Linked DNA regions of Homo sapiens. The protein of the gene in region 1 interacts with the protein of each later gene in a pairwise test. Each region holds a gene or a part of one and is shown in the gene's direction. Other genes may lie near its edges.

Region 1 (7,859 bases):
CCTCCCTGGCAGCTTGTTAGGAGGAGTAAACCAAGCGAGCCGACCAGCTCCCAGCAGGGTCCTGGCACACAGTAGGTGCTCAGCAAACGAAGCTGTGACCTGAGGGTGGAGAGTCTTATGGCAGGGAGGGAGGGAGGATGTGACACCCCTTGAGTCTCCTCAATTCCTGAGGATGCGGGCTGGGTGCTGTGGCTCATGCCTATAATCCCAGCAGTTTGGGAGGCCACGGTGGGAGGATCATTTGAGGCAAAAGTTCGAGACCAGCCTGAGCTACATAGCGAGACCCTGTCTCGATAGAAAAATTAGCCAGGCATGATGATGCTTGCCTCTAAGTCCCAGCGACTTGGGAGGCTGAGGCGGGAGGATTCCTTGAGCCTGGGAGCTCAGGATTGCAGTAAGCCATGATCGTGCCACTATACTCCAGCCTTGGTGAGAGAGCAAGACCCTGTCTCAAAAAGAAAAAAAGCACTGAGGATGTCAAGGTGCCTTCACCTCAGGAGGGGTGCTGTCACCCCATTTTACAGATGAGGACGCTGAGGGCCAGTGGGGGCAGGACTTGCCCGATGGTGCAGAGCTGAGTGGAACCAGCATCTCCTTCCTCCAGGGGCTCTTCCGCCTGCAGTAGAACCATCTGGTGGCTGCAGGTGGCCCCTGGGAACCAGGTGTCCTGGCCCACATAGGCAGGGACACGTCTGGCTGATGGTGCTGGGGAGGGGCAGAAGCTCCTCTGTGTGACTGCACGTCAGCTTTGCCGGCCACCTCGGGAGGATACACTCACTCTCCCTCGGTCTGTTCCCAGGGAAAAGGCCCACAAAGAGAAGCCCAACCAGCCAGCCCCCAGGCCGCCCCGCCAGGGACCCACCAATGAGGCACAGATGGCAGCCGCTGCCGCCCTAGCCCGGCTGGAGCAGAAGCAGTCCCGGGCCTGGGGCCCCACATCGCAGGACACCATCCGAAACCAGGGTGAGATATGGCCCTCCTCGGGCCCAGGTTGGGGCTGTTTGAGGTTCTCGGCCCTGGTGCCTGGCCCTGGATGCAGAAGTCACATGAGCAACCGTGGGGGTGTGAGGGTCACCCTTGGGAGCGGCTCATCAAGGGCAGGTGCTGGGGGAAGGGCAGCTTCCTGGGGAGGGGGTGGGAGCAGAGACTTGGAGCAGAAACGGGCTGCCCAGGCAGTGGGGTGCTTGCTCAGGCTGAGGGGTGGCTGCACAGCAAGTCCTGCAGGGGACCTCCAGCCTGACCTCCAGCAGAAGCAGGCTGGGGCGGTGTGCGTGGCCCCCAGGCCCACCCCGGGAATGAGGGGGCTTGGGCCAGGACAGCGGCGTGCTCACTATCCCGTCTCTGCCTCTCTTTCTTGGGCTGCCTTCCAGTGAGAAAGGAACTTCAAGCCGAAGCCACCGTCAGCGGGAGCCCCGAGGCCCCAGGGACCAACGTGGTAAGAACAGCCACTGGTGGCACTGTCCCATGCCAAGGGGTGGGGACAGCTTGACTGTGTCACGGGGGAGATGTGGCCTCTGCCCTTGGGGCTCAAGGGCTGTTGGAAAACCTTGCCTTGCAAGGTGGACACAGGTTGTGGTGGAACACGGTGTTGTCTGGGACCTTCGGGGCTCGGCAGCTGAGGATGCCGGCTCAGGCCTGGAGAAGTGGGCCTCAGGTACACGAGCCCATCGCTCCCTCCCCTTAACCCCTTAAGGGCAGATGCAGTTACAGTTTCCACTATTCAAAAAGAGAACCGGGGTTGAGAGAGGTGAAACCAGCTGTCCTCTCTCCTACACCCCAGGACCAGCAAAGGCAGGACCAGAGCCAGTCTGTGGTTTCAGAGCCTGTCCCCTAGCACTGCCCAGTCCTGCCTGCCTTGGAGGTCAAGAGGCTCTGTGGAGACGGGTGGAATCAGGGAGGCCTTCCTCTAGGAGGTGGGCCTTCAGAGCTCCGCTGAAAGGAGTTCTAAGCAGCTTGACCCTCGAGGATTCAGTGAATTTTAGCACGCAGGGACCTTAGAGATGGCCTAGAAATGGAGGCCCAGAAGTCATGCCTTGTCCAGCGCACTGTGCCCGCAGACACCCACACAGAGCTCCTTCCTCAACAGCTTGGGGACAGGACCAGCAGGAACCCAGCTGCCATCTGCTGGGTGTTTCCTGCGTGTCAGAAGCTGCTCCGTACTTTCCGTTCCTTACCTCGTTTAGTTCTGAGCAGGCCCCACAGGGACATTTGACATACCAGGGAAAAGACTCGGGGATCCGGTCACTTGGCCAGGGTGTCTCCCACGGCCACCAGGTGGAAGGGACAGCATGGGGGCTGGAGATGTCTGGTTCTACGGGCCACACTCAGGACTGTGGTGCTCGGCGAGGGTCGGGGTGGCCTCTGTCCACGGTCCAGACTTGGACGCTTTCACCGCCCCAGGTATCTGAGCCCAGAGAGGAAGGCTCTGCCCACCTGGCTGTGCCTGGCGTGTACTTCACCTGTCCGCTCACTGGGGCCACCCTGAGGAAGGACCAGCGGGACGCCTGCATCAAGGAGGCCATTCTCTTGGTGAGTGGCACCCTGTGTGCTCCTGCCCCAACCTGTAGCTTCCTGTGCCTGAGCCACCCTCCATCGGAAGCCCAGGTGGTACAGATCCCTCCCAGAGTCCCCAGAGGCCACTGCTAGTAGTGAAGCCCCTCCTCTGATACCCCAAATCCAGGCACACCATTGTGTATGCATCTGTATCTCCTCTCTCCCAACTAGGTGTCTTTTTTTTTTTTTTTGAGATGGAGTCTCACTCTGACACCCAGGCTGGAGTGCAGTGGCGCATTCTCGGCTCACTACAACCTCCGCCTCCTGGATTCAAACGATTCTCGTGCCTCAGCCTCTCAAGTAGCTGGGATTACAGGCACCTGCCACCATGCCTGGCTAATTTTTGTATTTTTAGTAGAGATGGGGTTTCACCATGTTGGCCAGGCTGGTCTCGAACTTTTGCCTCAAGTGATCAACCCGCCTCAGCCTCCCAAAGTGCTAGGATTACAGACGTGAGCCACCACGCGTGGCCTGGTTGTTTTTCATAAAAGGTTAAGTATTATTTGCTTCAATACAGAAAGAACTTCCTACAAAATTAGCCAGGCATGGTGGCACATGCCTGTAATCCCAGCTACTCGGGAGGCTGAGGCAAGAGAATTGCTTGAATCCAGGAGGCAGAGGTTGTGGTGAGCCGAGATAGCGCCATTGCACTCCAACCTGGGCAACAAGAGCAAAACTCCATCTCAAAAAATAAAAACGTCCACAGCATTTTTTTCCAATACAGCAAGTCCTCACTTAACACCATCAATAGGTTCTCAGAAACTTCGGCTTTAGCCTGGGCAACATGGCAAAACCCTGTCTCTGCCAAAAACAAAAAAAAATAGCTGGGCATGGTGGCGTGCACCTGCAGTCCCTGCTACTCAGAAGGCTGAGGTGGGAGGATTGCTTCAGCCTGGGAGGTAGAGGCTGCAGTGAGCTGTAATCATGCCACTGCACACCAGCCTGGGTGACAAGTGAGACCCTTTCTCAGAAAATAGTAAGTGGCTGGGCGCGGTGGCTCTTGCCTGTAATTCCAGTGCTTTGGGAGGCTGAGGCAGGTGGATCACCTGAGGTCAGAAGTTCCAAGACCAGCCTGGTCAACATAGTGAAACCCCCTATCTACTAAATATACAAAAATTAGCCAGGCGTGGTGACAGGCGCCTGTAATCCCAGCTACTCAGGAGACTGAGGCAGGAGAATCGCTTGAACCTGGGAGGTGGAGGTTGCAGTGAGCCCAGATCACGCCATTGAGCTCCAGCGTGGACACTGGGTGACAAGAGCGAAACTTCATCTTAAAAACAAAACAAAACAAAATAGTAATAGTTCCATAGACTCTCCAGACTCACACCCACTCCAGCAGTGTGTGCAAAAGCACCCGTGTCCCCATCCTCTCACCATACTGTAAATCACCAAACTTTGATCTTTACGCCTGTTGGTAGGTGAAAATAACATCTCAGGATAGAGTTAATTTGCACTTTCCTTATTTTGGATTGGCCATGTTTCATATGAGAATGCGTCCTTTCTACATTATTTAGTAGATAGTTTGTCTTTTTATTAGTGATTTGTAGGCACTCTTTTTTTTTTTTTTTTTTTTTTTTTTTTGAGACAGAGTCTCGCTCTGTCGCCCAGGCTGGAGTGCAGTGGCGCCATCTCTGCTCACTGCAAGCTCCGCCTACGAGGTTCACACCATTCTCCTGCCTCAGCCTCCCGAGTAGCTGGGACCACAGGCGAACCGCCACCACGCCCAGCTGATTCTTTGTATTTTTAGTAGAGACGGGGTTTCACCATGTTAGCCAGGATGGTCTCGATCTCCTGACCTCGTGATCCGCCCGCCTCGGCCTCCCAAAGTGCTGGGATTACAGGCGGGAGCCACCGTGCCCGGCAGCACTCTTTACATATTAGGCAATTTAGGCTTTTGCCTATGATATGAGTTGCACATGTTTCCCTCTAGTTGCTTCTATGTTGGCTCTGCTTATGGTCACTTTGCTGTGTAGGATTTTTTGATCTCTGTATAATTAAATGTGTCAGTTTTAGTTCATGGCTTTTGGGTTTGGGGTCATTCTTAGAAATGCCTTCCCCATTTCCATGCTGAGAGAATTCTTTTGTGGCCTCTCCAGTGCTTTTTTTTTTTTTTTTTTTGAGACAGAGTCTTGCTGTCACCAGGCTGGAGTGCAGTGGTGCAATCTCAGCTCACTGCAACCTCTGCTTCCCGGGTTCAAGCAATTCACCTGCCTCAGCCTCCCAAGTAGCTGGGACTACAGGTGCACGCCACCACACCCGGGCTAACTTTTGTATTTTAGAGATGAGGTTTCACCATGTTGGCCGGGATGGTCTCGCTCTCCTAATCTCGTGATCCGACCGCCTCGGCCTCCCAAAGTGCTGGGATTCCAGGCATGAGCCACCGTGCCCGGCCTCCAGAGCTTTTCTTCTGGCTTCTCCTTGACTGCTTGCTTGTTTCCATGGTTGAAGCTTTGATCCAGCTGGAGCATGTTATTATGTAACATGGTGGGATGGAGCTGATGTAATTTTTTTTTTAGATCTTGGCTCAGCTTTCTTCTCAGCCCCACCTGTCGAGAGCACCTGTCTTTTGCTTACAGCTGTGAAATCCCACCTTTCTCACAAAGTACATTCCTGTATGGATTTGGACCCCTTCCTGGCTGCTGTTCCTTCGTCCCTTGTCTGTGCATGTACCCAGCTCCTGACCTAAGCCTGGCAGCCAGTCGCCCAAAACGCCCGAGGCCCGCTTTTGGAGCTGACACGCTTCCCTTGGCTGGTGTGCTGTCCCGGGCGCTCTGATCCCAAGGAAGCTGTTGTCTTGGGGACATGCCCATCTGGCAGCTCTGCCTCTCTGCATCCACGTGCTCTGTCCCGCTCCCCACATCATCTCAGCAACTAAACCGGCAGACTGGGCCGGGTCCCAATTTTCAGTTGGCATGAGCCCCGGCTCAGTGTGTAGGTCATTGGTCCGTGTGACGCAGGGGGCTGCTGAGGGACCCTGCTGTGCAGTTGAGGGTGGGGGGTGGTGGGTGGAGCTCTGGGCTGCCTGGGCAGGTGGCCCGAATCCTGACACATGGCCCTGGGCTGCCCTTCTGTTCACCCGCCCTCGTCTGGGCAGCCCAGGGAGGTGCGGGTGGCAGCCCTGCTTCCCAGGCCATGGGTGGCTCTCTGGGTGTGGCCGTGTGTGATGGCTGTGCCGAGCGTGGATTTGTGCCCCAATCTTTTCCAGGTCTTAGGGTACGTACTGTTCTCAGCCTCTCCATGCTGGGACGCTGTTCGCAGTCAGCAGGGCTGGTTCTGGGAAACCCCCAGAGTTCCAGCTATGACTTCTCCCCTCCCCCGGTAACATAGGTGGATAGGTGGGACCTCGGGGAGGGGCAGGGGCTGGGGGTATCCGTCTTCCAGCTATTGAGTTTCAGACATTGAGGGTTGCAGACTCATTTGTGTCCTCTCTGCCACCTGCCATCCCTGTGACCCTGGACGATGGGCCTCTCGGTCTCTTTGTAAACATGAGGCCCGGGAGTGGTTCCAGAACGTCCATCATGGGGCTGCGAGAGCAGGAGGGATGGGGCGTCCATGGTGGCGGGAGGTTCTGTAAGTGGCGGTGGCCTTGATGGATCTCAGCACTGAGGTCGAGTTCTAAAGCCAGAGTGTGAGGCACAGTTCTGTCGCGTCACACTGGCTTCCAAGTCCCATGGATCTAGCCTTGAGAAGGCGGAAGGGGAGACTTGAGTTCTGCTGGGTCTTGGCTGCGTCGCCTCTGCCCTGGGGCGTGGGCAGGGCTGCGGTCTTGGAGGGTCTCTCTTTTCCTTTCTGTGATGAGCGCACAGCTGGGGCCGCTCCAAGCCGCTGTTCTGCCTTCCTTTTCCTGCCCCTGTTACCTGGGCAGCGGAGGGCCGTGCGGCCCGGGCTCTCAGTGAGTGGCTTTCCCTGCTTCCCTCCTCCCAGCACTTCTCCACCGACCCAGTGGCCGCCTCCATCATGAAGATCTACACGTTCAACAAAGACCAGGACCGGGTGAAGCTGGGTGTGGACACCATTGCCAAGTGAGCGTGTGGCCCCTTTGCCCTGCCTGGCCCCTCCAGCTCATCCCAGCACCCCTCCCACTGGGGCTGTCACCCCCTCTGGCCCCCTCATTACCTGCTGAGGTGGGTTGGGAAGGAGCATAGGCCGAGAGTGAGGCAGCTCCACCCAGAGGCCTCAGGCAAAGGGCTGGGCCTCCTTGGGCCTCAGTTTACCCGTGTGCAAAATGAAGGTGTTGAAGGAATCAGGGGTTTCCCACCCTGGCTTCCTTGGGGAACATGTGGAGGAGGCAGGGTCCCACCCCACTCCCCGGGTCTCAGGATCGGGGGCAGGCCTGGAGGTCCACGCTGCCCGCCAACGCCGAGGGAGCACCCCGCAGGAGCCCCCTGCTGGCACTGCGGCCCTTCAGCTCTGGCTCTCCACTCTTCCGGCACTGTGGCTTCCCCACCGCTGTGGTTAATTGTGCCCTTCCAGGGCTGGTGGGACGGTGAGGGGTTCCGTGGGGCTCCTGCTGGCACCAGGGGTGGGCTCCATGGGGTGTCCGAGGTGTGCCTTCCACCCGGAGATGGTCTGCTGCCCTCGCGTCACTGGGCCGCTTCTTCCCTCTGACTAGAGGCCAAGTGTGGCTGAGCTGCTGTTACCTGGAGCAGGAGGCACAGAGGGGCCGGGTGGGCAGCCTGGGCTGTGCCCCACTCACCTTCTCCACCTACCCCAGGTACCTGGACAACATCCACCTGCACCCCGAGGAGGAGAAGTACCGGAAGATCAAGCTGCAGAACAAGGTGTTTCAGGTGGGCGTGCCTTCTGGCCCCCGGGGCCCAGGCTGGGGGTGGGGGCAGCTGGCCTGCAGGAGCCGGTGGTGGCCCACACCAGGCGGTGGGCTCCCTGGAGGAGCTAGCGAGAGTTGAGCCACAAGCAGTGAAGGGTTCGGCCAGTAGAAGGTAGCAGGACAAGATGGAGAGCAAGACTTTTATGCACCGGTCACCCCAAATCAACAAATTCTGCCTCTCCTCACCTGCATCCTTTTCCTCCTCTTCAGCTGGGCTTGTTTGGGAACATGTCGACTCTGGGGAGGTTTCTCATGCAAACCAGATGTCTGGTTCTTCTGGGGGAAAGGGCAGGGACTGGGGTCCTGGGCGGTGTTAGCCTCGCATCAGGCCCCAGCAGTGTCTGGCTCCTCAGCCTCACTCTTCGTGCCTGGTTGTGACTCTTTCCTCTGTGCAGAGCTGTTGGAGACTCCACAGCCCCCACCGTAGAAAAGCAGGTTTGCATCCAGCACTGAGGCACCCCCAGGGCTGGGCCCCATC
Region 2 (7,886 bases), on another chromosome or scaffold:
TACCAAAGTCCATACCAGCATTATTCAAGATAGCAGAAAGGTGGAAGCAACCCAAATGGCCGTCAACATATGAATGGATAAGCAAAATGTAATATATACATACAATGGAATCTTATTCAACCATAAACGGGAATGATATACTGACACATGCTATAACATGAATGAACTTGAAAATAATTATGCTAAGTGAAATAAGCCGGACAAAAAAGAACAAATATTGTAGGAGTCCACGTATATGAGGTATCTAGAATGGGCAAATTCATAGAGACAGAAAGTAGAATAGGCTGTGCGTGGTGGCTCAGACCTGTAATCATAGCACTTTGGGAGGCCAAGGTGGGAGGATTGTTTTGAGTCCAGGAGTTTGAGACTAGCCTGGGCAACCTGGTGAAAATCCTACCTCAAAAAAAAAAAGAGAGAAAGAAAGTAGAATAGAGATTACTATGGGCTGTGGGGATGGAGAGAGACTCTGTCTCAAAGAAAAAGAAAAACATACACCTAACATCATACTCAATGGTGAGAGAGACTGAAAGCTTTTTGTCTAAAATTAGGAACAAGACAAAGAAGCCCACTCTCATCATTTTTTGAGACAGAGTCTTGCTCTGTCACCCAGGCTGGAGTGCAGTGGCGTGATCTCGGCTCACTGCAACTTCTGCCTCCTGGGTTCAAGCAATTCTCCTGCCTCAGCCTCCCGAGTAGCTGGGATTACAGGTGCCTGCCACCACGCCTGGCTAATTTTTGTATTTTTAGTACAGACGGGGTTTCACCATGTTGCCCAGGCTCGTCTCGAACTCCTGGCCTCAAGTGATTCACCTGCCTAAGCCTCCCAAAGGGCTGGGATTAAAGGCATGAGCCACCGTGCCCGGCCTCATCATTTCTTTTCTGTTTTTCTTAAGTCTAGTAATAGAGTCTCGCTATGTTGCCCCAGGTTGGTCTCAAATTCCTGGGCTCAAGCAATTCTCCTGCCTCAGCCTCCGAAAGTGCTGAGATTACAGGTGTAAGCCACCACACCCAGCCTCTTCATTTCTATTCAACATTGTACTGGAAGTTCTAGCTAGAGCAGTTAGACAATAAAAAGAAATAAAAGGCATCCACATTAGAAAGAAATAAATAAAACTATGGCCAAGTGTGGTATCTCATACCTGTAATCCCAGTGCTTTGGGAGGCCCAAGCAGGAGGATAGTTTGAGGCCAGGGGTTCGAGACCAGCCTGGGCAACACAGTGAAACTCCATCTCTACAAAAAAAATTTTTTTTTAATTGGTCGGGCATGGTGGCACACGTCTGTGGTCCTAGCTACTCAGGACACTGTGGTGGAAGGATTACTTGATCCCAGGAGTTCGATATCAACCTGGGCAATGTACGGAGACCCCATCTCTAGCAAATGATTAGAGCTAATAAGTGAATTCAGCAAAGTTGTTAGATACAAGATCAACACACAAAATCAGTGGTATTTCCAAATACTGGCAATAAAAAATCTAAAAAGGAAATAAATCAACTCCTTTTACAATAGCATCAAAAAGAATAAAATACTTTGAAATATATTTAACCAAAGAGGTACGAGACTTGTACGTGGAAAACTATAAAACACTGCTGAAAGAAATGAAAGAAGGTCTAAGTATGGTCATGTAGTGCTTAACCATGGGGGCACCTTCTGAGAAATGTGTCGTGTAAGTGAATTCGTCGTTGTGTGAACATCACAGAGTATACTTACACAAACCTGGATGGTATAGTGTACTACACATCTAGGCAATATGGCATAGCCTTGCTCCCGGGCTACAAACCTGGACAGCATGTTACTGTATTGAATACTGTAGACAATTGTAACATGATGGTATTTGTGTATCTAAACATAGAAAAGATACAGTAAAAATATGGCCTTATAATCTTATGTGACCACCATCACATATGCTGTAAGTCATGGACCGAAAGGTTGTTATGTGGCGCACGACTATAAATGCAAAAATATTCATGCTTAAGGATTTGAAGACTTTATATATAAAGTGAGTCATCGCACCAGTATTGTTAAGATATCAATACTCCGGCTGGGTGTGTTGGCTCACACCTGTAATACCGGCACTTTGGGAGGCCGAGGCGGGTGGATCATCTAAGGTCGGGAGTTCAAGACCAGCCTGACCAACATGGTGAAACCCTGTCTCTACTAAAAATACAAAAATTAGCTGGGCATGGTGGTGCATGCCTATAATCCCAGCTACTTGGGAGGCTGAGGCAGGAGAATCACTAGAACCTGGGAGGCGGAGGTTATAGTGAGCCGAGATCATGCCATTGCACTCCAGCCTGGGCAACAAGAGCAAAACTCCATCTCAAAAAAAAAATTGAAGGTATCAATACTCCTCAAATTGATCTACCAATTCAAAGCAATCCCTGTCAAAATCCCAGTGGCCCCCCCCTCCCTTTTTTTTTTTTTTTAACAGCAATGGAAAAGCTGAGCTAAAATTCATACAGAACTGCAAGCGACAAAACAATCTTGAAAAAGAGGAGCAAAGTTGGAGGACTCAAACTTCCTGATTTCTATACAGCTACTATACAGCTGTATACAGCTACTATACAGCTACAGTAATCAAAATAGTATGGTACTAGCATAAAGATAAGATACATAATCAATGGAATAGAATTGAGAGTACAGAAATAAATTTATACATCCATGGTCAATTGATTTTTGACAAGGGAAGAATCCTCTCTTCATTAAATGGTGCTGGGACCAAAAAATCGGAAGAGCTCTCACAGAATGGTCAAAGAAAAGTCTCTTTGCCTAATGGGATCAATTTAACTCCTTATTGTGCTTCAACAGACACGGTCTCATGAGCAGTGAGATTTGAACTCACCACAGGCTCCCAAAATCACTGAACAGGAGATGAGGGAGGTGGTGGTGGGGGGAACGGCATGGGCCTGTAGGTGAGGATCAATCTCAATCTGAGTCCCCGCACTAAAGACTTACAAATAAATCCCGATTTAGGCAAACCGAGACTTTATTCGGAAAGGATTATTGCAACAGGGGGGAAAAGGACTATTGCAATAAGGGTGGAGAACTATTGCAATAGGAAGAAGGACTGTTGCAATTGGGAGAATGCTGGACTATAAAATAAAAAACAAATCTGGATATACGTAAGGAGAGAGTTCAGTGGAAGAGATCCAAGAAAAGGGAAAGAAACTATTGCAACTGAGAGTGGGGATTGGGGGAGGCTACAGCAACCGGGAGAACTCTCCAACCATGAGATCTGCAGCGATCTCCTGGGTCAGGCAGAAAAGGGCTTTCCTTTTACAGAGATGAGTGAACAGGGCTAGAAAGACCCGGGTGTGGGGAAGTGGGGAGAAGACTGGAGGTGGCAGCGATGAGACTATACAGAGACTGTTTCCCTGGGGTCCGTCTATTTTCAGGCGGTGGATGAGGAGGGCTGCTCGCTGGCTGCGGCTGAGGCTCGGTCACCGTGTAGAGAGGCCCAGGGAGAGCTGCTTCACTCAAGTCCTGTCAAGTCAAGGCAGCCGGGATTTGTCCACATCGTGAGTACAGGCAGGTCAGCTAACTATTTGCGAGGCGAAGAACTGGAATTTAGAGGGTCTGGGCCTGACCTTGTCACAGCTAACGACGGGGGCATCCTTGAGTCCTGACAAAGTCACATGCGGAAGGGCGGTTGCGTGTAGTAAGTCCTTTTAGGAACACAAAGGGGCCGGGCGCGGTGGCTCACGCCTGTAATCCCAGCACATTGGGAGACCAAGGCGGGCGGATCACCTGAGGTCAGGAGTTCAAGACCAGCCTGGCCAACATGGTGAAACCCCGTCTCTACTAAAAATACAAAAATTAGCCGGGCGTGCTGGCAGGCGCCTGTAATCCCAGCTACTCCGGAGGCTGAGGCAGGAGAATCGCTCGAATCCGGGAGGCGGAGGTTGCGGTGAGCCAAGATCGCGCCATTGTATTCCAACCTGGGGGACAAGAGCGAGATTTAGTCTCAAAAAAAAAAAAAAAAAAAGGTGGGTGGGGGTTTCTTCAACTTCGTTGTCCACAGGGCTCAGGTCAAGTTCAACATTGTCAGAATGCAGGGATGTCTCTCCATGGTTTCTGAGGCTGAGGAGGTACCCAGGTAAGCACACTCTGGGTTCTCTGGTGAGCACACACCGAGCTGCCTGCATCTCCCCTACCCATGAAGGCAGCTAGCCGCCGGGCCAGTGGTGGGAAGGGGAGGCGGCCATTAGCGCCGTTCCCGCCGGGACTTGAAGCGCCCGGCCGCGGCAAGCCCCGCCCTCGGCGCGCCCCCGCGTCCGCGCGCGCTCCTCGGGTCTGCGCGGAGCCGGCGTCGGCGCGCGCTTGGGCGCCTGGCGAAGACCGAGAGAGGCTGGCGGGATCTCAGCGGCGCGGCCGCGGAACCTGAGGCGGTCTGGGGCGGCGGCGCTCCGGCTCTGAAGGGCTCCAGCCAAACGGAGCCCGCGGCCAAACGGTGCCTGCGGTGCCTGAGCTGAGTGAGGCCGAGGCCGGGAGGCCGTGCCCGGAGGTGAGCGTCCCGGGGCCGCGCCGCGTCCGGCGGGGTGAGGGCGGGGCGGGGCGGTCGCCTGCCGGCTGGGGCCGAGGGGTCGCGGCCTGTGGCTTGGCCGCCGCGGATCGTCGGTGTCGGGGGGAGTCTCGCTCCGGAGGGCCGCGTGTTTGCGACTCGGGAAGGGGCGCCGGCGGCGGAGCCCGAGCCAGGGTCCCGCCCAGCCCAGGTGAGCGGCGACCCCGAGCCCCTGACTCGCCTGCGGCTTGACTTGCGAGCTAGCTGAAGGCACAGCTCCTGGTTCTCTCGCAGGGCGTTCCGAAACTTACAGTTATGCGCAACACAATGTTTCTATTTTCAAAGGCGAACGCTGCACGATCGCAGTCCAGTGATACAAAGTATGCCTATTAGTGACTTCACCCGACTCCCACCACTCACTTTCTCTGATGTTTTGAAGGCCTGGTGTTCGCTGATTTCACGTTTCCTTAATTTCTTCTTTGTGCCTTTTTTTTTTCCTTTTCGCTGCCAGTAATAAAAGAGTTTATTACTTGTCAGCAATGATGAATGTTCGTGTGGCATCCAGCGTTGAGTTCCTATGTACGTAATTTGAGATAAGTAAAGATAGGAAACTGCTGATTTGTTTTGATGCGAATGCAGAAAATAATGTGGTAGTATGAAGTCTGGCCGGTTGCAGTTTGTTTTTAGGGGGGAAACTTTAAAAGTTCATGTTGTGTCTTCTTTCTAAATATGCTGAAAGTCGGATTTATTTAAAAGGCAATTAAATTCAGTGAATACAGAGTATCTTTTTATAACACTAATGTTAGTGCTAGGCACTGGCGGAGTCCAAAAATGTGTAAAAAATGTGTGCAGGAGGGAGTGGTTAAGCACACTAATGATATGAGGCTGACTGCAGTCCAGTGTTAATGGAAGCTCACACTTACTGAGCAGTTGTTTTCAGCTGGGCACTGTGGAGGGTACTTTACTTGCATTTTAATTTAATAATGTATAATAATTAGCATACACTTGATTTAATTTTTTTCATTCAAAAAAATTTTAGTACCTACTGTGTACTGAATGCTAAGGATACAATAGTGACAATTACAGACTCTGCCTTTAGACTCTACAGTGTCATTGGGCAAAACAGATATTAAGCAAATAATCAGGGCCCGGAGCGATGGCTCACGCCTGTAATCCCAGCACTTTGAAAGGCTGAGGTGGGCAGATCACCTGAGGTCAGCAGTTCTAGACCAGCCTGGCTAACATGGTGAAACCCCGTCTCTCTCTACTAAAAATACAGAAATTAGCTGGGCGTGATGGGGGGCGTCTGTAATCCCAGCTACTCAGAAAAACTGAGGCAGGAGAATAGCTTGAGCCGGCGAGAGGTAGAGGTTGCAGTGAGCCAAGATGGTGCCACTGCACTCCAGCCTGGGTGACAGAGCGGGACTCCATCTCAAAAAGTAAAATAAAATAAATAATCACACAAATAAATGCCAATAAGCAAAGACAGAGGCTAAAATAAAGAATGTAAGTTGTTTGTGAGAGAAGGTAACAGGGGGACTTATCCAAGCTGGGAAAGTTTTCCTAGGAAAGTAATCTTTGAGCTTAGATATTAGGGATAAATAGGAATTAGGGGAAGATGACTCCCAAAGGAGAGAAGAAAGGCTCAGGCAAAGGAAATAGATGGCGCGGAGGCTAGGGAAGATGGTCATTTCAGGAACTTCAGCAGTTGTTGTGTGGAAAGCAAAAGGGTGCTGTGATAAAGTAGGTTAGGGCCAAAGAGATGATGCAGGGCTTTTTTTTTTTTTTTTTTTTTTGTTACAGAGTCTCGCTCTGTCACCCAGGCTGGAGTGCAGCGGCACGATCTTGGCTCACTGCAATCTCTTCCGGATTCAAGCGATTCTCCTGCCTCAGCCTCCCGAGTAGCTGGGACTATAATGCGCGCCACCATGCCCGGCTAATTTTTGTATTTTTAGTAGAGATGGAGTTTCACTGTGTTGGTCAGACTGGTCTCAAAATCCTGACCTCTGGTGATCCACCCACCTCGGCCTCCCAGAGTGCTGGGATTACAGACGTGAGCCACCGTGCCCGGCTGATGCAGGGCCTTTTAAGCAATGTTAAGGATTTGGGACCAGCTTTTTCTGTTTCTTTTTCTTTTTTAAACTTTTATAGAAAACTTTTCAAACCACTCAAATGTAGGGAGAGAACAGTACAATGAACTCTCCCGTAATATTACCCAAATGACTTGGATGTTATTTTAACAGTAATAGGAAGTCGTTTAAAGGTTTACCTCCGTCAGAAAAAAAAAAAGTTTAAAGCAAGGTAAGTCTTACTACAAACAACTTTTTTTTTTTTTTGAGACGGAGTCTCGCACAGGCAGGAGTGCTGTGGTGCAATCTCCGCTCACTGCAACCTCTGCCTCCCGGGTTCAAACGATTCTCCTGCCTCAGCCTCCCGAGTAGCTGGGATTACAGGCATGCGCCACCATGCCTGGCTAGTTTTTTGTATTTTTGGTAGAGACGGGGTTTCACTGTGTTGGCCAGGCTGGTCTCGAACTCCAGACCTTCTGATCTGCCCACTTCAGCCTCCCAAAGTGCTGGAATTACAGGCGTGAGCCACCGTGCCTGGCCAACTTTTTATTTCAAAAAGTCGTCCTGACTGCTGTGTAGAAACTGGATTGGATGGGGACAAGAATGGAAATGAGGAGACCACCTAGAGTTGATGGTGGTTGGGACTAGAATTGTGGCAATGAAGGCATTGAAAATTTAAGAGTACCTAACTGATCTCTTCTCATGTTAATAATTTTATATTCACACCTATTGGAGGAATCATGGAAGGTTTTCTAAAGGAGATTGTATGTATGTATGTTTTTATTTATTTGAGATAGAGTTTTGTTCTTGCCACCCAGGTTGGAGTGCAATGACCCAATCTTGGCTCATGGCAACTTCTGCCTCCTGGGTTCAAGCAATTCTCCTGCCTCAGCCTCCCAAGTAGTTGGGATTACAGGTATGCACCACCACACCCAGCTAATTTTGTATTTTTAGTAGAGAGAGACAGGGTTTCACCATGTCGGTCAGGCTGGTCTCGAACTCCTGACCTCAGGTAATCTGCCCGTCTTGGCCTCCCAAAGTGCTGGGATTACAGGCTTAAACCACCGTGCCCAGCTAAAGGAGATTATATTTAAAATGAGCTTTGCATTTCCGTCCAGACCAGAACCCAAGATGGCTGCACTCTTGCTGAGACATGTTGGAGTGGTCATTGCCTCCGAGCGCACTTTAGCCCTCAGCTTTGTATCAGAAATGCTGTTCCTTTGGGAATCATGGCCAAAGAAGAGATGGAATGGTTCTGGAATAAGAACACAGGTTCAAACCGTCCCGTATCTCCCCACGTCACTATCTAGAGTTGGT
Region 3 (7,859 bases), on another chromosome or scaffold:
TATGAGGACCAGGAGGCTGTATGCTTGATATGTGCAATTTCCCACACCCACCGGGCCCACACCGTTGTGCCACTGGACGATGCTACACAGGAGTACAAGGTGGGGAAGCAGACACACGATGTCAGTGTGGGTAAAAAGGGAGAAGCGGCAGAGGATGAGATACTCCCTAGGTAGAGATCGTAAGCTCCTACTACTCACTTTGTATTCTCAGAGCTGCATATGCAGGGGCACACAGTATGTGTGATCAGTTGTCCTCTAGCCTGAAAAAGAGCAATGGTGAGAAGTGCCCTAAAATTTCTCTCTGACTTTTGCAATACATGTGAGTCTTATGGGTGAATATTGGTATGTGTGGTCATATTTTTCATAAATGAATGAAACCACATGGAAAAGATTAAACTTAGGAAGAACTGAAAAGTAGTCTGGTTTCTTCATTCTGCCTGCCTGCTCAGAATGCTCCTTGTTTTCACACTGGTTATTGGGCATAGGTAATATCGCTTGAGACTGATACCTACCGGACTAAGCTGAACCATTCAATTGTTTGCAGCTTCTCTAGGTAATGGGTAACATGGCATATCATTTAACTTACTGCTGAGACAAAGGAAAATGTTTGAATAAAGGGAACAGAGATATGAATGTGTTAGCATTTTATCATATACTTTGCTTAGTTATGTTACTCTTGAAAACAAGATTTCAGGTAACTTACAGTATAATAACCATGTTTTTATTGTAGGTGGACAGAGGTGGATGGGAGGACAGGTTTAAAGAGAGATATTAGGGTACAGAAGGTTGCTTGGATGGTAATAGGCAGTTGCCTCAGTAAGAAAATGGAAAGAGTTGAGAAAGGACACAGAGTTGATGACAGCTATCTCAGATTCAGTAAAAGGACAGTTGGGTGAGCAGAGAAGGTGATGTGGACAGGCTAGTGGCAGGAGGAGGGACTGTAGAAAGTTGACATCCCAAATGACAGGCAAGGAAGGAAGTCAGATCAAGAGGCAGTAAGATGGCTAGGAAGCAAATAAATGGTTTAAAACAAATGGTTTAATCTCTGAATGGTAGGTATACCAGTCAACCCCAAATGTCACCTCTCCCACTTCCTCCCTACCCCTCAGGAAAAACTGCAGAAGTGTCTGGAGCCCCTGGAACAGAAGCTGCAGGAGATCACTCGCTGCAAGTCCTCTGAGGAGAAGAAGCCTGGTGAGCTCAAGGTAAAGGCAGGCAATCCCATGTAGGCTGCTCTGAAGGGTATTTGCCTATGAGGGAATTAACTGTACACTATTTAATCCACCAGTTCCGGTTCATTAGAAAAATGCAGTTCTCGCCGGACATGGTGGCTCACACCTGTAATCCCAGCAATTCTGGAGGCCAAGGTGGGCAGATTGCTTGAGCTCAGGAGTTTGAGACCACCCTGGGCAACATGGTGAAACCCTGTCTTTACTAAAAACAAAAAATTAGCCGGGCATGGTGGCACATGCCTGTAGTCCCAGCGACTTGGGCGGCTGAGGCAGGAGAATTGCTTGAACCTGGGAGGCGGAGGTTGCAGTGAGCCAAGATCACACCATTGTACTCCAGCCTGGGCAACAGAGCAAGGCTCTGTCTCAAACAAACAAAAAAAACAAACAAAAAAAAAAAGAACAATGTAGTTCTCTCAAAAATGATGGCATTTTATTAGGCTTGATTGTCATTAAACATTGTACTTAAATTACTTGTCATGAATTAAGTATTAAGAGGGATTTAAGAGATGAAGAACAGACAGAATATCTTACATCTGGTGAGCTGAGAGAGTTCGTGCCTCTTGGTCTCCTTTTTTTGTTAAAGCAGCAAAGGAGGCTTTCTGCTGAGAAGGCAGGGATGGGAGTTTCTTAGAGGACTTGAAGAGAGGAGAATATGGAAGATTCACTGGGGAGAAAGGGAAAAGGAGCTGACCAAGAGTCTCAGAAGAACTATCTAATGACATTAGGACCACATTCTTAAAACTCAAGTAAGCTTACATATGCTAGAATGTTCTCCCCCTCCCCATCCTCCACCATAGGATCTTATTCATCTCTCAGGCGGGATGAAAGCCACTTCCTATGCAGCCTTTCCTGACCCTTCAGAAATTAACATTCTTAATTTTCATACAATTTTGCACCTCTTTTATAGCATTGCCTTATTTGTAGCATGGTATTTTGGTGTCTGTCTGTCTTCCATTGAACAGTGAACAATTATCATTTGTAGCAAAAATAACTAGAATTGAGTCCTATGCATTAATTCATTAGGTATCCGTAACATTCCAGATTTATAGGGTTGTTAGGGTCTTAGAGTTCAGGCCAAATTGGGATAAGTGAGACATAGAAAAGCTACGAGAAAGAGACAGAAGGAAATCCTGAGGCCATCTTTAGTAAGATGTAGGGGTAAACCTAGATATTCTTTAAGGTAGGTATTATTACCTTCAGCTTACACAGAAGGAAATGGACCTTGGGTAAGTGACTAGTCCAAGATCATAAAGCCAGTAAGTGGCAAAACCAGGAATACTAGTTCTTCGTGAATCAGTAAATATTTGTTAAGCTCCTGGTTTAGGCCAAACCCGGTATTTGACACTGGGGAACAATGATGAGCAAAAACACAGTTCCTGCCCTCCTTGAGCTTAAAGTTAAGTGGAGAAAATAAGTAATGGCACAAAATGCACAGCTGCAAGTTCATAAGAAGACAACATAGAAATTTGGCCTCATTAAAGGTTTCCCGAAGAAGTAATGAGTTTTTAAGAGTTGACATGTAGAGATCACCAGAAGCTAAATCCAAGTTTTGATTCATAGAAACATGAATTTTTAAATGAATGATAACATTTCATCAGAAAGCAAGTATTATTACCTTAGTGCCTTATACATTTTAGCAAAGTAAGCATTTGAAATTTTAAAATTTGAACCAATTTTGGTTAGAAATGTGAACTTTTAAAGTTTTTTGTTCTTTTAGAGGCCTTCCAAGAAACCTAAAAATATGAAAATGGTGCTTATTGCTAGTCATTAACTTTCTTCTTCATGTTGATCACCTTCTTGAAGGTAAAGGATGGAGAGAGAAATATACCTTTTTAAAACCTTCTAAATGCTTGAACAGAACTGTCCTGTTTTTTAAACTGTAAATTGTCATTTCAGTGGTCTCCAAAACTACCACCAACATTCCTCTTGTGACCATTTGAATTCTCCCTCCTTCTCCCTCATCAGACTCAATGCCCCTTTAAAAAATAATTTGTAATTATGCTGAACTGAAAATTACAGGTAATATAACCTATGTGCATAATGTTAAATTTTAAAGAGTCTATCATGTCCAAATATAATATAATGAAACATAATTGATGATAAAATGTGGTATGTAATATTTGGGCATGACTACCCTGAACGACTTTACAGTGTAGCTGGTTATATGCTTGCCCCTATATGTGTCATTATCAGCAACGCCATAAATACAAATTCAGACTGAGATGGATGTGTGCCAATATGATTGAAATACCATAAGTAGCTTAGCTCTTGGTGATATGATTTTTCATAGTAATAACTTTTGGTAAAGTTCTAAGTATAACAATATAATCTTGGGTTTTATTCAGCTATTGCTGAAAAATTCACGTATAGTAAAACCATGTAAGAATTACTCTGTGTTTATACTATATAAAATGGCATTCAAGCCCAGGCCTATGTTTTTGTTTTTGTGGTTTTTTTTTTTTTTTTTTTTTTGAGACGGCGTCTCGCTCTGTCATCCAGGCTGGAGTGCAGTGGTGCCATCTCGGCTCACTGCAAGCTCTGCCTCCCGGGTTCATGCCATTCTCCTGCCTCAGCCTCCCAAGTACCTGGGACTACAGGCGCCCACCACCACACCCAGCTGATTTTTTTTTTCTATTTTTAGTAGAGACAGGGTTTCACCGTGTTATCCAGGATGGTCTCGATCTCCTGACCTTGTGATCTGCCCACCTCGGCCTCCCAAAGTGCTGGGATTACAGGCGTGAGCCACCGTGCCTGGCCGCCCAGGCCTGTGTTTTTGAATATCCAGCAGAACATTAGAAAATGTTGCAGGTCAGTTCACTATGCCGGATTGTCTCACACATTGGAGGAGTGCTTGCGTCATTGTCAGGAACTTCCCCAACCATGGAAAACAAGAAGATGTGCCTATTTCCAAAATATCCTCAGAGTGTGTTAACAGCTTCATCAAGAACCACTGCCCTAAAATATAGAGTGAAAAAAAGAGAAAAGATTACCGGTTTATAAGAGGAAGGGCCTTTTTGCTTCCTATTTATCACAGTCATGAATGTTAAACTTACACCCATACCTAAACAAACACACATGCATGCACACACATGTGCAAACACACACACACAAAGGCTGTGTTTTATTGAGGGCAAATGTGAGAATATATTTTGTTCAGATGTACACTGAGAAGGCAGTGGTGGAAAGTGAAGCAGCAAGTGGCCCTAAACTAGAAGAGCTAGTCAGCCTCTGCCAGGAACTAGCTTGAATCCACAAATGCCACGCTTGTCAGGCCCATCCTGGCTTTGCATCCCCACTCTCTCTCCACCCTCAAGCCTGCCTTTCATTCCCTATCCACTTCCTTCTAGAGTCCCAGTCTCTGCTTCTCACTTTGCTTCATCATCAGTCACATGATGCTTGGGGAATTCTTTAGGGAGATCACTATTTGTTGTAGTGGAGATGCAGAAGAGAGGATGTGCTGATAATTCTCAGAAAGTGTTATGGCTGGTGTTTGAGTCCTATATTATCAAATTTCAGGAATGTTAGAGGCTTAAGTCTGTGTGCTGGCTTAAAGAAAGCATGTTTCAAATTTCAAGAAACTAAATTACTAACAAACTTCTGTAACCTGTTCCTGGGGTAGGAATTGCCAGTTCTCTGAAGTGACTTGAAACAATTTAACAAGTTCAGCCCTGAAATCTACATATGTATATTTTATAATAACCCATATAACTCTTACTGATTCTTACACTTTCCCAGTTCTCTGGTTTTTATCTGGTGCATGTGTTGCAATATGCAAAGGATGACAATCTTATTTTTAACTTTTTATTATTTGTACTTTCCTTTTTGTTTCGTTGTTTTTTGTTTGCTTGTTTTGAGACAGAATCTCACTCACCCAGGCTGGAGGGCAGTAGTGATCACAGCACACTAACTCAAACTCCAGTGTTCAGGCCATCCATCCTCTTGATTCTTTTTGAGTAGCTAGGACTGCAGATGTGCATTGCCATGCCCGACTAATTTTTTTTTCTTTTTAGTTGAAACAAGGTCTCACTATGTTTCCTAGGTTGGTCTTGGCCTCAAGTGATCCTCTCACCTGGGCCTCCTAAGCACTAAGTTTACAGGCATGAGCCACCATGCTGAGCCTATACTTTCCTTTTCTCGACAGATTGAATTAACTAGAACTTTACAGTTGATAATAACACAGATATCTCTGATATCTGTAATAGTTAATGTCATCATATTATTGAGTTCTTTATCTTAAATTAAAACAAATATATATATCCGCAGTGGTCTTCACTACCAAGTCATCAGTAGGGGGGTGATAGTGATGGAGCCATTCTTTACAGAAGGAAATTCCAATGGAATAAAAAATGAGTGTTCTGTTAAACCATTTTCTCTCATTTTCTTTCTTTCTTTTCTTTCTGTCTTTGTCTTTCTGTCTTTCTTTCCTGTCTGTCTGTCTTTCATCTCGATCTGTTGCCCAAGCTGGAGTGCAATGGTGCAACAATTTCAGCTTACTCCAACCTCTGCCTTCTTTGCTCAAGCCATCATCCCACCTCAGCCTCTCCAGTAGCTGGGACTACAGGCATGCACCACCAGACTCAGCTAATTTTTTGTATTTTTTGTAGAGTTGGGGTTTCACCATGTTACCTAGGCTGGTCTCAAACTTCTCATCCCAAGCAATCCACCTCCCTCGGCCTCCCAAAGTCCTGGGATTACAGTCATGTGTCACCACACCCAGCCTTTGTTAAACCATTTTCAATGAAACTGGAAGTCTGTGTTAATTCATACATATGGTGGGTGAGAGAAAGGCTTCCTTATACCACACTGACCCTGCTGATACAACATCTTCCCTCTCTTCTCAGAGACTAGTGGAAAGTCGCCGACAGCAGATCTTGAGGGAGTTTGAAGAGCTTCATAGGCGGCTGGATGAAGAGCAGCAGGTGTTGCTTTCACGACTGGAAGAAGAGGAACAGGACATTCTGCAGCGACTCCGAGAAAATGCTGCTCACCTTGGGGACAAGCGCCGGGACCTGGCCCACTTGGCTGCCGAGGTGGAGGGCAAGTGCTTACAGTCAGGCTTCGAGATGCTTAAGGTTCGACCTTTGCCCCTGCATAGCCCCTCAGGCTGAGTGCAGCGTAGCTTTGCGTAGCCTGGGATTTGTCAGCCTGGGATACTCATTCTTCTGCTCTCCTTCTCTAAATCCAGTTCTTTCTGCCAGGTGTACTCAAAGGGTCTTTGCTACGGAAAAGTGATTTCTCCCATCCCCTTCTAACCATTTTTGTGTTCTTATCTCTGGTCAGCAATTATGTGCTTAATCTGTTCCAAAGAAAAGATTCATTCTTTTGAAAGGAGGGAAGTCTAGCCTGAGTTAGTGAAAAACTATGCATTAAAAATTTTGTAAATGCAGTTACCATTACTTTTAAGTCCTGAAATTTGATTTATGTACTGCTGAAAAAGGACAGAAACATAGTTTAAAGGATACAGGCATACCTCAGAGATATTGTGGGTTCAGTTCCATACCACTTCAATAAAGCGAGTATCTTGATAAAGCAAGTCACATTAATTGTTGGGTTTCCTAGTGGAATCATATTTTTGCTGGTGGAGGGTCTTGTGTTAGTATTGACTGATCGAGGTGGTGGTTGCTGAAGATTGGGGTGACTGTGGTAATTTCTTAAAATAAGACAACGACGAAGTTTACTTTCAACTCTTCCTTTTATGAAAGATATCTCTGAGCATGTGATGCTGTTTAATAGCATTTTACTCACCAGTAGAACTTCTTTGAAAATCTTTGAAAACCCACATTTGCAGTTACTTACAACATGGGAGTCTTGAACCCCTAAAAGTCATCCATAAGGGTTGGAATAGACTTCTTCTAAATGCCTGTTAATATTGATATTTTGGCTTCCTTTCACAAATCACAAATGTTCTTAATGGCATCTAGAATGGTGAATCCTTACCAGAAAGCCTTCAATTTACTTTGCCTAGATCTATCAGAAAAATCACTATTTATAGCAGCTTTATGAAATACATTTATTAAGACTTGAAAGTCCAAATTACTTCTTGATCCATGGGCTGCCGATTGGATGTTGTGTTAGCGGACGTGAAAACAACATGAATCTCATTTTACATCTCTATCAGAACTTTTGGGTGATCAAGTGCATTGTCAGTGAGCAGTAATATTTTGAAAGGAATCTTTTTTTCTGAGCAGTAGGTCTCAACTTAAAATTTTCAGTAAAGGGTTGGGCACGGTGGCTTACACCTGTAATCCTATCACTTTGGGAGGCCAAGGCAGGTGGATCACCTGAGGTCAGGAGTTTGAGACCAGCCTGGCCAACATGGTGAAGCCCAATCTCTACTAAAAATACAAAAAAATTAGCTGGGCATGGTGGTGGGCGCCTGTAATCCCAGCTACTCGGGAGGCTGAGGGAGGAGAATCGCTTGAACCCGAGAGGCAGAGGTTGCAGTGAGCCAAGATCATGCAGTTGCACTCCTGCCTGGGTGACAAGAGTGAAACTCCATCCCCCCAAAAAAAACTTCAGTAAAGGCTAGGCACGTTGGCTCACATCTGTAATCCCAGCACTCTGAGAGATCAAGCCAGGAGGACTGCTTAAGGCCAGGAATTCAAGACCAGTCTGGGCAATATAGCA
Region 4 (7,859 bases), on another chromosome or scaffold:
TTTAGAATCTTTTTTTTTTAGCTCCAAAATGGGCAGAATGATGGAACGTTGGACTTATCCTTTGAATTGAAAGTGTTTTGTAATGAGGAAGCTTTCTGTATTATAATAAAGATCAGGTTTGAGCAGTTACCTGTAATTCAGTGAGACTGTAATCTAATGTGAGCATTTCTCTCATAACTTTACTCTGAGGTCTAGACGTTGTTTTTGCAGATCTGCAGGCTTGGTCTAGAGGTGGGATGTTTATATTAAAGCCCTAGCTTTTGAAAGCCCAAAATGAAAAGTGCCTGGGAGAAATGTGTTGGTGGATTTTTTTTTTCCACAGCCGTGGTTACCTGTGTAGTAGTAATGTGTTTTTGTATCTTTACCTCATTTGATCCTCCCGATATCTTGGTGAGAAGAGAGCAGATGGAGGTATTGATAGACAGAAGCCTTTGTGGAACGAATAGCCCATGAGTTTAGGAGTTGAGTCCCAGATTCAAATCCCAGTTCTACTACTTGAAAGCTGAGTGATTTCAGTCAAGTCATTAAAAACCTTTCAGATGGCCAGGCGTGGTGGCTCACGCCAGTAGTCCCAGCACTTTGGGAGGCCGAGGTGGGTGGATCACTTGAGGTCAGGAGTTTGAGATCAGCCTGGCCAACATGGCAAAACCCCATCTCTACTACAAATACAAAAATTAGCTGGTAGCACGTGCCTGTAATCCCAGCTACTTGGGAGGCTGAGGCAGGAGAATTGCTAGAACTGGGGAGGTGGGCAGTGAGCCACGATTGCGCCATTGCACTCCAGCATAGGCAACAAGAGCGAAACTCTGTCTCAAAACAAACAAACAAAAAACAAACAAAAAACCTTTCATATTTAGTGGTAATGGCTGCAAAACATTGTGAACATAGTTAATACCACTGAATTGTACACTTAACTTTGGTTAAAAAGGTAAAAATACACACACAAAAAAACCTCAAAAACCAAAAAAACTGGCCAGGCATAGTGGCTCACGCCCATAATCCCAGACTTTGGGAGGCTGAGCTGGGAGTATTGCTTGAGCCTAGGAGTTCGAGACCAGTGAGGGCAACATAGGGAGACCCGTCTCCACAAAAAAAAAAAAAAATTTGCTGGGTGTGGTAGCGTATACCTGTAATCCCAGATACTCAGGAGGGAGGTGGGAGGATTGCTTGAGCCAGGGAGGTCAAGGCTGCAGTGAGCCATGATCGTGCTTCCCTGCACTGCAGTCTGGGTTACAGAATGAGACCCTGTCACACAATCAAACTTTCATACTTCACAAGGCTGTCAAGGGGAACAAACCAGTTCATGTCCTGAAAACACTGTACATATATGAAATATCTGTTCACTATTTATTTATTTAATGAATGTCTGCTAAGTGCCAGGGGAAATAAAAATGAACAGAAAGCAGTTGTCAAGGAGCTTTCAGTGTCATGGGAAAGATAGACAAATACGGTGAGAAAAGTGAGGCAAAATGAATGCTATGGTTAAATGTGGGTTTTGAAGTCTGTCTACCACTTACTATTAGCTGTGTGACGTTGGGCACAATGGGCTCATCTGTAAAGTGCGAATAATAGAATTAACATCATAGGATTGTTTTGAGGATTAAATAAGATAATCAATGGAAAGCATTTCACACAATATGTTTTATAGTACACATTAAAAAAATTAGTTGTTGCCTTTATTGTTAGAAAGATAGGCAGAGGCTAGAATGGTGAATAGCCTTGTGTGCCCTACCAATGAGTTCTTAGTATTGTGGTATTTATTAATGAGGTATGATTTTGTTTTATGATCTCATGCATATTTGCATGTTTACAGTCTAGGAACTTTAAACAGTTCTTTAAATGCCAAAGTCCTAAACAGATGTTAGCTGTTAGCTTCCTCATTAATAAAATAAGAAGAAAAATTATGCTCTGAGAGGTTAAATGACTTGTTTAAGGTTACACAGTCAGTGGAAAAGTCTGGGTTACAGCCCCCAAATTCTAATTTGTCATCCCCATTTATATCCTTTTTTTAAATTGTAAAATATGTCATATGTATAAAAGTATATTTAACATAAACCCACAACTTAAAGAATAACAAATTGAAGGCTTTTCTACTTGCTACCCAGCTTAACAAAAAGGAGATTTCTAGTACCTTTAAAGCCTCTTGTGAGGTCCTACTTGATTGAATCTCCCATCTTCTCTCTCCCTCAGAGATAAACAGTTTCCTAAATTTTATGTGAATCATTTCTTTGCTTTTCTTTATACTTTTACCAAATATGTGCATATCCCTAAACAGTATATTTTTTACCTTTGCAACTTTTTATAAATAGAATTATAGGATAAATATTCTTCTGACTTGCTTTATTCTTATTCTTATTTTTTAACTTTTAAAAAAGCTTTATTTCTTCCACCATTAAATAATGTGTGCTCATGATAAAAACTAGAAATTACAAAAAGTAAAAAGAAGCATAAGTATTGTTTTTAGTCCTATTACCCAGTAACACTTTTTTTTTTTTTTGGTAGAGACAGGGTCTCGCTATGTTGTCCTGGTCAAGTGATCCTCCTTCCTCGGCCTCCCAAAGTGCTTACAAATGCAGGCATGTGGCACCATGCCTGGCTGGCAAATGCTTTTTGTAGAAAATATTTTGTGCCACATATGGCCTCTGTTGTTCTTTCTCCTCCCTTCCACTCCCCTTCCTTTTTGTCTCCCCATCTCCCTCCCCGTTCTTCTCCTTCCTGAAGCCCCTCCTCTTGCTTCTCCCCATTCCTTCTTCTCCCTCCCCTTCTCTTTCTCCTCCTTTTATGTGGTTTTAAGAATGTAAAACTCACAGGCCATACAAAAATAGGCCATGGGCGGGCCATAGCTGGCCGACCCCTGGTACGTTAACAGAAATCAACTCAAAGTTGTAAAATATTGAAGAGGAAAGAGACTAAACCAAGTTCATATTTCTTTCTCTATTTTGTTAAATTTACTTCCTTGGACAGTTATGCATATCTTTAGTATTGAAAACAATGGTATAGAATTTTTTTGTCAAATTATGTTTATCTAAAAGTTTAACATTTTATTAAATGAGCCATTATTTTCTGTATGAAGACACTCTGAGAAAACCTCAGTTTATAAAGTTCCAATACACCTCCTCCTCCTGCCAGTTAGGCAGGTGTCTGGGTCCTTTCAGAATATGCCTATTTTATGATGATATAGGTTGTGCTTTTTCTTAGATATAGACATTTTGAAGGAACCCTGAGATGATATATTTTTCACAGTAAACTTCAATCCTTGGCTACTTGAGATTATGATCTTGATTTGCCTTCTGATCATGTCGCTCAAGCTTGACGATTTCTGCTAACTTGTATTTCTTTTCTAGCCTCTGTTTTATAATTTTTCTAAGTATTTTAGTTTTCTAATGTGTCTTCCTCTATCTTTTATTTTGAGTTGATAGCAAATGTCTCTATCAGTAGATAACAGCTATGCTATTTATACTTATGCAAATATAATGGCGCCATTTTATATATAGTTCTTAGGTTGGTCATGTGGCATTATTTTCATTTTAAGGATGAAGAAATTAAGACTCTAAGAGGGTAGCTGGGTGCAGTGGCTCACACCTGTAATCCCAGGATTTTGGGAGGCCAAGGTGGGAAGATCGCTTGAGCCCAGGAGTTCAAGACCAATCTGATCAACATAGTGAGATCCAGTCTCTACAAAAAACAAAAATATTATCTGGATGTGGTGGCGTGCACCTCTGTTCATAGCTATTTTGGAGGCTGAGGTGGGAGGATCACTTGAGCCCAGGAATTTGAGGCTACAGTGAGCTATGATCATACCTCTGCTCTCTAGCTTGGGCAAGACTATATCTCAATAAATAAATGAATAAAAAGATTCAAGAGGGTAATTTGTCTTAGGCCATAAGACAAGTAGGGAATTAGCAGGGAAAGACAAAAGGTACCTAACATTTGAGTGTCTATGGCAGGCAGTATGCTGGGTGCTTTCTTTTCCTTATAGATAGAATTTAATCCTCATATTTGTGTCGTATAAGGAATTGTGATCATTTTACAGAAGAAGAAACTGAAGCAACTGAGGCATATAGTGATTAACTAGTTTGCATTTGTTTACATAGCTAGTAAGAGAAGAAAAGCTCGTATTTAAAAACCTGATCTGCCTTGCTCCAGAGCCATTGTTCTTTTTGTTGTACTGCATATAAATCTTCCTGGTTTTAAGCTGTTAAATCAGTAGTCTTCTTTTTTTTTTTGAGACAGAGTCTCGCTTTGTCTCCCGGCCTGGAGTACAGTGGCACGATCTCTGCTCACTGCAAACTCTTCCTCCCAGGTTCAAGTGATTCTTCTACCTTAGCCTCTTGAGTAGCTAGGACCACAGGCCCGTGCCACCATGCCCGGCTAATTGTTTGTATTTTTGGTAGAGATGGGATTTCACCATGTTGGCCAGGCTGGTCTTGAACCCCTGACCTCAGATGATCTGCCTGCCTCGGCCTCCCAAAGTGCTGGGATTACAGGCGTGAGCCTGCACCCAGCCTAATCAGTAGTCTTCAACCTATTTAGACAGGTAGTATCTGGCTACTCTTTAGAATCACCCGAGGAGCTGTTTAAAAAAAAAAGATATGTGTCAGTTCTACTCTCGACCAGTGTTAACAAAACTTCTGTAGGTGAGCATAAGGCAGATGTGTGTATATTTATATGGAAAATATAAATTAAAAATAAATTATATTGAGGTATGTATAACATGTAGAAAAAAATGCACAAAATGTATAACCAGCATTCGGATCAAGAAAGGGAACATTATCTCCTCCTCCAAGGAAACCAACAACTTCTAATAATGTAGATTATTTTTGCCTGTTTATGACGTTTCATAGGTGTGACTGGCTTTTCATATATAATATATTTGTGAGACTCATTTATTCTTGTATGTAGGTGTAGTGTGTTCTTGCTTATTGCTATGTAGCAACAGTTTCTCAAACATTTTGGTGTCTTCACATTCATATTTATTGACAACTCCAAAGAACTTTTGCTTGCAGTGGCACAGTCATGGCTCACTGCAGCCTTGACCTACTAGGCTGAAGTGATCCTCCATCCTCAGCCTCCTAAGTAGCTGGGACTACAGGCATGTGCCACCATGCCTGGTTATTTTAAAATTTTTTTTGTAGAGACAGGATCTTGCTCAGTTGCCCAGGCTGGTCTTGAACTCCTAGGCTCAAGCAATTCTCCTGCCTCAGCCTCCCAAAGTACTGGGATTACAGGCATGAGCCACTGCCTTCAGCTGTGTTAGCATATTCTAATGAAAATAAGTATATTATTCTAAATGTAAAAAATTAGAATAATATTTTACATTTAAAACAATCTCTTTAGTATCTTATTGGATCTGCCTCAGTATTCAGTCTGTTGCAGTTTGTTGTTTTGCATGGAATATAAAGAAAATCCAGTCCCACAAAGGAGGAATTTTCTTTTTCTTTTTAGACGGAGTTTCACTCTTGTCGCCCAGGCTGGAGTGCAATGGCAGGATCTCGGCTCACTGCAACCTCCGCCTCCTGGGTTCAAGTGATTCTCCTGCCTCAGCCTCCCAAATAGCTGGGACTACAGGCGTGCGCCACCACGCCCAGCTAATTTTTGTATTTTTAGTAGAGACAGGGTTTCAGCATCTTGCCCAGGCTGGTCTTGAACTCCTGACCTCATGATCCACCCACCTTGGCCTCCCAAAGTGTTGGGATTACAGGCGTGAGCCACCGTGCCCAGCCGAAAGGAGGAATGTTTTTATATAATTGTGGATATTCCTCTTTGATACTACACCAGTCATGTCCAGCCCTTTGAATGTGAGGACTTTTTTGCTTATCTGTAGTGGATATCATGAAAATTATACACACTTTTTTTTTCTTTTTTTTTTTTTTTCAGCTTATCAGCTATCGTTAGTGTTGGTGTATTTTATGTGAAGCCCAAGTCAATTTTTCTTCCAGTGTAGCCCAGGGAAACCAAAAGGTTGGACGCCCATGTTACACCAAAACTTGACAATTGGTAGTTTGTTAAGGTTCATTGCCTTGTACAGTCTGAACCATATCACTGAGCTTTTCATGCTCTGTTACATTAAAATCCATTGGTCTGTTTTTTTCTTTATTATTTTTTAATTTGCTTATTTCTCCAAGAAAAACCATTGGTCTGTTCGTACTTTGTTAGATCTTTTACCCGTGCATAATTTTTGTAGCATTATGCGTTGGTCATTTGGAAAATATTGGTTCACTGAATATCTTAGTCTGCTCTGGCTGCCATACCAAAATGCCATAGACTGGGTGGTTTAAACAACAAAAATTTATTTTTTCGCAGTGTTGCAGGCTAGAAAGAAGTCCAAGATCAGTGTTCCAGCATGGTTAGTTTTTGGTTAGGGCTCTCTTACTGGCATCTAGATGGCCATCTTCTCGATGTTTCCTCACATGGTGGATTGGAGAGGGAGAAGAGAGAGAAAGAATAAGTGCGAGTGGACAGGCAAGCTCTCTGGTGTCTCTTTTTGAAGGCACTCATTCCATCATGGCAGCCCCACCCTCATGACCTAATCTAAACCTAATTATAAATCATCTAAACCTAATTATCTCCCAAAGGATGTGTTTCCAGATACTATCACATTGAGGAATAGGGCTTCAATTTATGAATTTTGAGGGGAGGCAGTTCAGTCTATATTATTGAGTTATTGTGGAGCATCTTTTTTGAGACCGGGTTTCACACTGGAGTGCAGTGGTGCATTCACGACTCACTTTGGCCTCAACTTCCTGGGCTCACGTGGTCATGTAATCCTGCCACCTCAGCCTCCCGTGTAGCTGAGACTTCAGGTGCAGGCCACCGTGTCTTGCTAATTTTTGTAGTTTTTCATAGAGACGGGATTTCACTGTGTTGCCCAGGCTGGTCTCCAACTCCTGGGCTCAAGTGATACCCCTGACCCAGCCTCCCAAAGTGCTGGAATTACAGATGTGGGCCACCGCACCTGGCCATGTGCAGATCTTCTGAACTGTATAATGTTTAAGAACCCACATTTGTTAATATCACCACTCATCTCATCAGACAAATCTTTTCTAATTTTCATTTGAAAGCTCAAATTTTATCATAGGCAACCAATACTGACAGTTGTTTTCGTTGAAGTGACAGTCTCACATTGTTCATTTTCAAAAAATTGTCTGCCAAACATCCAAGTCTGAATAATCATAGTTTTTCTGCCAGTCGTTTTTTCAAGTAAAAATGGTGTTTATTAAAGCAGCCAGTACAGTTTGCAACTCAATTGCACAAGTGCTTTAGTGCTTTTCTTTGAGACAATTCTTGTACCTTAATATGCAGCAGAAATGCTTTATGTGAGGCTCGGTGCGGTGGCTCACGTCTGTAATCCCAGCACTTTGGGAGGCCGAGGTGGGTGGATCACCTGAGGTCAGGAGTTTGAGACTAGCCTGGCTAACATGGTGAAACCCCATCTCTACTAAAAATACAAAAATTTGCTGGGCGTGGTGGCACACACCTGTAATCCCAGCTACTTGGGAGGCTGAGGCAGAAGAATCTCTTGAACTAGAGAGGCAGAGGTTGCAGTGATCCGAGATTGCGCCACTGCCCTCCAGCCTGGGCGACAGAACTAGACTCCATCTCAAAAAAAAAAATGCTTTAAATGTACATTCCATTTTTCCATTTCTTCACATAGAATATGAAACAGATGTATAATTAAGGATTAAGATTTAGTAAAATTAATACTTTTTTTTGAGATGGAGTTTTGCTGTGTTGCCCAGACTGGTCTTGAACTCCTGGCACCAAGTGCTCCTCCTGCCTCAGCTTCTCTAGTAGCTGGAACTACAGCTCTGCACCACTGTGCCTGGGTAAAATTAATAGTTTTTACGACTTCCAGAAGA

What was found.
Region 2: the proteins of UBXN6 (region 1) and UBXN2A interact in binary tests that used the Homo sapiens proteins (3 or more experiments, as listed by UniProt).
Region 3: the proteins of UBXN6 (region 1) and TRIM39 interact in binary tests that used the Homo sapiens proteins (3 or more experiments, as listed by UniProt).
Region 4: the proteins of UBXN6 (region 1) and FAM168A interact in binary tests that used the Homo sapiens proteins (3 or more experiments, as listed by UniProt).

What each region holds. Positions count from the first base shown.
Region 1 is NC_000019.10:4,447,034-4,454,892, reverse strand, and holds part of UBXN6 (UBX domain-containing protein 6), read left to right. Parts: intron 1-799; coding exon 800-963; intron 964-1,370; coding exon 1,371-1,435; intron 1,436-2,400; coding exon 2,401-2,529; intron 2,530-4,062; exon of another isoform or gene 4,063-6,477; coding exon 6,478-6,575; exon of another isoform or gene 6,576-7,267; coding exon 7,268-7,343; exon of another isoform or gene 7,344-7,705; coding exon of another isoform or gene 7,706-7,788; exon of another isoform or gene 7,789-7,859. UniProt on the Homo sapiens protein: May negatively regulate the ATPase activity of VCP, an ATP-driven segregase that associates with different cofactors to control a wide variety of cellular processes.
Region 2 is NC_000002.12:23,936,146-23,944,031, forward strand, and holds the start of UBXN2A (UBX domain-containing protein 2A), read left to right. Parts: upstream 1-4,317; 5' UTR 4,318-4,503; intron 4,504-4,539; exon of another isoform or gene 4,540-4,711; intron 4,712-7,886. UniProt on the Homo sapiens protein: Acts to repress the ubiquitination and subsequent endoplasmic reticulum-associated degradation of CHRNA3 by the STUB1-VCP-UBXN2A complex in cortical neurons.
Region 3 is NC_000006.12:30,329,672-30,337,530, forward strand, and holds part of TRIM39 (E3 ubiquitin-protein ligase TRIM39), read left to right. Parts: coding exon 1-99; intron 100-1,109; coding exon 1,110-1,205; intron 1,206-6,073; coding exon 6,074-6,304; intron 6,305-7,859. Other genes in the region: TRIM39-RPP21 protein, read left to right, coding at 1-99, 1,110-1,205, 6,074-6,304.
Region 4 is NC_000011.10:73,587,511-73,595,369, reverse strand, and holds part of FAM168A (protein FAM168A), read left to right. Parts: intron 1-7,859.